Linked DNA regions of Homo sapiens. The protein of the gene in region 2 purifies or fractionates together with the protein of the main gene of each other region. This does not show direct contact. Each region holds a gene or a part of one and is shown on either strand. Other genes may lie near its edges.

Region 1 (3,093 bases), on a different chromosome or scaffold from region 2:
CACAGTTACAATTGGAATAAGGCAGCAGAGTATAGCAGAAAAAAATGGGGCCATGGTATCAAATATGTCTTCAACCCCAGCACCACCCTAGGGTGCTCTGAACTTCATGAGTAAAATGTGATAAAAATCTACCTCAAGGGACATGTAGCAGAGTAAATGGTAGAGAACTGGTATTTAAATTTCATTTTCCCTATTTCTCTCGTCCCTCTTAAAAATAATGCCGTGTTCCAAGAACAGAAAACCAAACACCGCATAAATGGGAGCTGAACAATGAGAACACATGGACACAGGGAAGGGAACATCATACACTGGGCCTCTCGGGGGGTGGGGGCGGGGGCTAGAGGAGGGATATCATTAAGAGAAATATCTAATGTAGACGATGGGTTGATGGGTGCAGCAAACTACCATGGCACATGTATACTGATGTAACAAACCTGCATGTTCTGCACATGTATCCCAGAACTTAAAATATAAATATAAATAATAATAATAATAATAATAATACTGTGCTCCATCAGATCTTGCAGTGTATGGTGTTTTTTAGTTAAAACTGAACCATAACACCCTTAATTAACTTTGCTAATAGTGAGATGCTTTTGCCAAATTCCTACTTGCCTCCAATCATCTATCCTGACTTGACTAACATTCTTAATGGGTGGAAGGAGAACAAATGGCCACAAATTAAATGTCTTTATCCATATGAATAGAGTGCAATCGGTCACTGTAACAGGAGTGTCTCAATAATTTATTTATTGACTTTATTATAATTTCAAACATGCAGACAAGTTAAAAATCATGTACAATATAACCCACATACCCACCACCTAGATTTAACAATTGTAACCGTCATAATAATAATGTAGAGAGTAATGATGACATTACCAAAATTTCCTAAGTATATTATTTTCTGATCCCTTGAAGGTATCCAAAACCCACCAACAGAAATCATCCAAAAAGTTTCTTCACTATGAACCCTTCAGTGAACTTTTCCCCATTCATAACATGGGGGCATCGCTGAGGGAGAACTACCAAGGAGCACACAGGGTGAGTTACTCTTTTCCGTAATGACGCCTCTTGGTTTCTTGACTTAGGGAGTCCTGGGCCTGCTCACTTCTATTACTCATATGGCAGATTCTGCTTCTTCCTTCTTTGTACACTTTCAGGTTTTCAATGAAATAGCACAGTTGCCAGATTTAGCTAAGAAAAATACAGGATGCCTAGTTAGCTTGAACGTCAGATAAACAATATAAAAATATAAGTATATCCCAAATATTGTATGGGATATGCTTATACTAAAAAAAAATTTGTTGTTTATCCGAAGTTCAAATTTAACTGGGCATTCTGTATTTTATCTTGCAATCCTGTGAAATAGACAAATTTAATGACCTTCTGAAGGGGGTCTAGATGACTTTGACAGCTGGGCTCTCATGCTTCTAGGTCTGAAGACAAAATGAGAGAAAACTATAGAGAAAGGGAGAGAATATACTTTTGCACTACGACTAAGAAAAAAAATATTTAGAATTGCTTTTAACTGGTTGGGAGCTAGACAGAAAGTCTGAGGTGTATTTGTGTTGGATTTAGTAAGTCATCTGTGAGATTCTGGAGGAAACAGCGTTGTGGAACTGAACAGACTGAATCAATTTATGATTAGGGTTAGAGTCATATGTGTATGGTTTGTTTAACAGGGTGTATTGCACCTATTGCCACATTAATGCTGTATATAAACCAACCACAAACCTTGGTGGTATTGCTGGGGTAAGCATTTATTGCTTACACATCAGAGTAAACTGGGGGCCTGGCTCTTAGGTGATCTAGGCTGGCCTCAGTTGGGAGCTCTGCTCCCTGCATCTCTCATCCTTTTCTTAGGACCATTCAGCTGTTTCAGAGATGTCTTTCTCACAGCAACATTTCAAATACAGTGAAAGCAAGCAGAAACACATGAACCTTTGAGGGCTGGTCTTAGAACTGGCACAGTGTCATTTTCACTTCATTCTGTTACTCTCAAAACCTGCTCCTATGGGTGGGAGAGGGGGCTCTGCCTCTTTAATGAGAGGAGCTGCAAAGTCACACAGCAAAAGGTACGGATGCAAGAGAGGGAAAGAACTGAGGCCATCACTGCTATCACAGCAAAAGGTATGGATGCAAGAGAGAAAGAATTGAGGCCATCACTATGCCTATCGCTATCGCAAGGCGTGGGCTGGAAACTAAGAATAAACTGGGGAGCAAAAAAGTTGCTTCTTTTTGAAAACTATACATTTGTTTGCAACTGTAGCATTTTTTTTCTTCTCCAAGAAAAGTAATTAGCAAGACTTACAAATGATTTTTTCCAGTTTGTGAAGCAGAGATGCCAACAGATCTCTACAAATTACCAGAATGTTCCACAACTCTTCTCAAAATACCTGTCAAAAAAGTTCTGAGCACATGGTGGCATTTTTTCCTTGTTGTAAACACAATGTATCTATATGAACAGTCTAACATATTAAGGATGGAAATTTGCAGGAAAGTGGTAACATTTAAGAGAAAAGGAAAACCAACTGAAGATTCAGAACAAATAACTTCCTATTCTGGTATCCCTTGAAATCTAGCACCAGTTTCTTCATCATTTGCTACATTTAGTCATGGGGAAGAACAAATTAGTAATTGGATGTGGGACTCTGAGACTCCTCTGCTTCTGTGACCTTTGTAAAGTAGCAATCTTTGCACACCTTTTAAATATGTGGATCAAATAAAAATCTTGTTGTCAACTCTGAAATAGCAAATAAATAGGAGATATTTTTACATCTAAAACCTCAGAAATCACTTTGACCCTGGAAATCTTCACTATGACCTCTAATTGCAAGTTCTTTTCTTTCAAGTCAGTTATCAAAATCAGTAGATTTTAAAAATGATGAGTTTGATTCTTAGTTCTTTGATACTTATTTTCTCTACTGGTAGTGGGTACAAAGTAAACTGGAATTAGACACATACATAATTGTATCAATTGGGACGCTTTGGGTTTTAAGCACCTATAAGTAACTAAGTCTCAGGACAAAGATTGGTCTCATTTCAAGGACTTGGATAAGATGACAGAGTGTGTATGCTGTTGCCAGTGCC
Region 2 (4,207 bases):
TCTGGGTTTGCTCTTTGAAGCCTGAAAAGGCAATGGGCTCTGGCCAACAGTGCTCTCACCTTGGCGAGCAGAGGGAATAATAATATAAGCAGCAGCAAACACTTTTATAGCACTTCTCATGTGCCAGGCACGTTTTAAGCACTTTCTATCTATTAACTCATTTAATTCTTATGATATAGATATTATTATCCACAGATGAGGAAACTAAGACACAGAAAGAACTTCCTCAAAGCCACACAACTAGTAAATGGCAGAACCTGGATTTAAAACCCAGGCATTCCAGCTCCCAGTGCCAATCTCTTAAAGGTTTATGACTACAAGGGGTTTCCTTTTATCCCATATACTCTACTGTCCTAGAAAAAACCACCTCTGGTGCTTTCCAAGGCCAAGGAATGGAAATAATGTGAACACGTATGTGGGCTGAAGTTAACATATAAAAGCCCTGATGTGCCTCCAAAACAGAGGCCAGGTACATTCCCCTAATGCCTGGCCACTTTCTTCTCCTATTTTTTCCCCTCTCCTGCCATACTGAAAATCTACAGATAATCCCCCCAACTACCAACTAGGCGAATGCCTTATTAACACTTCTAAGATATTAATAGGTGGACAAATTATTGATCAGACCAATCTATAAGCAAGAGTCCACCCAACTTGCCTTAAATCACCTGACAAATTATGCAGAGCTCTAGCTTCCTACATTTCTACCAGTATCCCAGGGCCTCTGGCTCTATAAAAGGAGCAGGCCATGTAATGAACCCAGACATCCAAACCTACGTTCTTCCCCCTTCCACAGCATCCACCAGCAATTGTCCTTTTAATATTAGTTCTATAATAGACACAAAATAACTGATCTTAAAATGATTGCTAATCAGTTTCCAGCTACTATACAGGTAGGCTTTCTGTTGTTTTCCACTAAAAGTGACTAAGGTTCCGGTTCTTGTTCTACCAACTTCCCGGGGTTTCAAGGAAGCCCAAACAAAACCAACAGGTTTGTAGTCTTGTGGTTTGCTTTATAACTCATGATAGGCATGAGTTAGTCTGGGCATTGCCTTACTCTACACCACCGGATTCTAAACATACTTTTACTACTTGGTCACCATCTTGCTACCAGATTTGACCAAGTTTCTGCATCCCAAGATGTGATGCTAACATATACAGTGAAAAGTCCAGAAAGACTTGGGGGCTTTCTATCTCAGAGATCCTCTTAAGCCCATTCCTACCTAGCAAGGAGTAGCCCTGTAGTAGCTACTACTTCTGTAATAGCCCTGCAGAAGCAGGAAGGAGATGTGCAGTAACTAGGCTTGGTAATCATCAGAAGCTCAAGAGACTCTGGTTTAGAGAATGTCATTAACCGTTAAGACGGCAGGAATCATGATTTTTGTACATTTGGTAGAGGCTCCGGCTTTGGAAGTGTGCAATGATCTTTTCACATCTGGTGTGAATCAAATGCAAGCCTCACTTTCAACTTATTGCCAACCTCCTCATGCAAGTAGGTTCCTTTTCCCCTTCCTAAGTACTTGCATTTGTGGGATCCTCACAGATTTGAGTATCAAAGCAAGGTTAAGTTTGCTTCTCCCTAGTTTCCCCACAGCCACCACATCAAGCTGTTATTAAGAACCCATTTCAGTGCTGTTCAGAAAGTGGGGTACTTGCCACCATGCACTTGACTGTAGCCCTCACCCCACTGCCACGTTGGCTGCAATGCCCCGGACAAAACAGCCTTGGTGGGTAGAGGGGTGGAGGGAGTAGAAAGAAAGGTAGGGGGCAAAACTGCCCAGGTCTCCCCCCCGCTACACACACACACACACACACACACACACACACACACACACGCTCGTACACAAACGATGGTTGGAATGAGACAGCCATATTAAGCAGGTCAAGAATCTGGGAACGTACAACTTCTGGGACACAGGGAGAAGAATGCAGGGAGCTGGGCATTTGCACCACGGTAAAAGCCGTTAAACTTAGTCCAGCGGGCTGAGATGAAATCAGTTCCAGGAGGTGGCATAAAGGGAAGCGCACGTGAAGTGGTGGAGAATGGAACTCCAGCGCAGTTGAGAGGGATGCTGGGGCCAAACTCAAGCTGGAGAAGTAACACACGGCTGCACGGGGCTCTACTCCATGCCCCTCCCCCTCCCCGTGCAATAGTCCAGCGCCCACCGACTCCTGCTCCCAGCGCCAGCCATCCGCACGGGGCGCCCCCACCACGCGCCACTCCTCCTCACGCCTCGCTCCCACCCCCTGCATCTTCCACTCACCCCACACGACACCTCTGCCCACTTTTCGGTTACGCCCCCAAAGCCAGCCTCCATCTGCCAGGTCCCTCCCCTCACCTCCGGGACCCGACTCCCCGCACACTCCGTCCCAGCGGTGCTCCCCACGTTTCACGGCTCCTCGCTCTTGCTCCCTCCGCCCTCATAGACTCTGAACGCCCCCTTTCTCTTCCCTCGCCCCCATCCACTTTCCCCTCACACTTCTCCCCGTCCCCCTCCCGCGGTCACGCGCCCCCCCTCCCCCAATGGCTCCTTCCACGGCACCCGCTCCAGGCCCGGCTCACCTGCACGGCCACCCCCGTCCCGGCGCTGGTGCGGCTGCTGCAGCTGGAAGGGGATCGTGGCCCTGAGCGGCTGCAGCCCAGCCCGGGGGGAGCCGGCGGGGGCTGGGGGAGAGCAGCCCCGCCGGAGCCCCCCGGCCCCTCCGCGCCCCGGCCCCCAGGCACCTCCGCCTCTGCCGCCCGCTGCGGCCCCCGCCATGGCTCTCCCGGCTGCCTGCCTCAGCCCCACTGCGAGACTCACACAGCCCCCCAACCCCCGAGGCCGCTGCTTATCTGCTGTACGGGGCGGGGACCGGCCCCCTCATCCTAGAGCTGTCATTGGACTGCGGAAACCCAGACCTTCCACCCCAGCCAATCCACAGCTTAGCCTTCCCTTTCCTGAGGATGATTGGTCGATGAGCCTAGCGATCCAAGCCAAGACCCCACCCTCACACCGCCCCCTTCGGTTTTCCAACATCCCAGGGGCTGCTGATTGGCCTGTACAGAAGAGGGCTGGTTCTCCAGCGCCACCAATGAGAAGACGCAGAATAGGGGAGCGTCACACCCAGTCCCAGGTAGTATGCAAATATAATGTCACGTGACGTCAGGCTGAGCTGGAGAGTGGGCGCGGCGCTGGGTGTAGGTTGGAGTCAAACACTAGTGAAATAATTTTTGGGGGCGGGAGTAGGGAGCAGTGTCAAACTTTACACAGTTGAGTCCCTGAATCACAGAGAAAGCGATACCTTCAAAAAGTATTACATTTAATTTAACCTAAAAAACATTAGTTTTAAATCCTTATAGGATCTCAGTGCTACTTACAAGCTCCAAACTAAGATCCTACAAATTAATGCAAGGTTTGCATATCATTTGCATGTGATTTGCATTATATTTGTGTATTTAATGGCGACCTTGCCTCGTGTGACACTTACATCTGTCTTTCTCCACGTTTCCAAGTCCCTACTTGGTGTTGATCCAACCTTAAAAAAACAATTGCTAGCCTGTAAATTAAATTGGGACTCTGAAAAGAAGCAGGGAATTTCCCTTCAGAGTCGTCCACTCCAAGTCTAGCTCAGCAGAGTGAAAGGAACAAAGCAACTGAAAAACTTGCCCAAGTTTGCACCGCGACTCCGTTAACAAATCCTGGTCTTCCAAGATCAATGCTCTCTGACTTACAAGTCAGAATGAGACTGGAAGGTCCCCAAAGAGAATGCATGCAGTTGTGAAAAGCACATGATATAATAATATAAAGGGATTTGGGAAAGAAAATAACATTTAAGATACTATTAAAAAGTATTATGCTTCAAAAGAAAAAAAATATTACTCTTGGTATTTGTTAACCATTTTGTTCTACATATGGAAAAAGCAAAAGTCAATCAACCCTGGATTGTCTGTGATTGGGGACCATTCAAATAATTGAATAATTCCCTCCAGATTTATATTTAGCTGTGAATTCTATTTTTGATCTTGCTACAGATTTTTCTTTCTATTTCTGTTTTTGCCCAGTTTAATGTTAAAAAGAAGATATTCCCTGAAGCCATACTAACTAATCAGAGAAAAAGAGGTAATCTGGGAGCCTGCTGTGAGGCAAAGAGAAGTCATTCTGGGATTAAATATTGAAAGTAGATAATACCCAAAGTGGAAATTCAAGAGTGGGTTGAATATTAAAATTAG

What was found.
Region 1: the proteins of FAM117A (region 2) and COBLL1 purify together in Homo sapiens (affinity purification with mass spectrometry, with the first as the bait; one large-scale study listed by BioGRID). This does not show direct contact.

Annotation. Positions count from the first base shown.
Region 1 is NC_000002.12:164,679,461-164,682,553, forward strand, and holds the end of COBLL1 (cordon-bleu protein-like 1), read right to left. Parts: 3' UTR 728-3,093; downstream 1-727.
Region 2 is NC_000017.11:49,761,332-49,765,538, forward strand, and holds the start of FAM117A (protein FAM117A), read right to left. Parts: upstream 2,801-4,207; 5' UTR 2,757-2,800; coding exon 2,561-2,756; intron 1-2,560.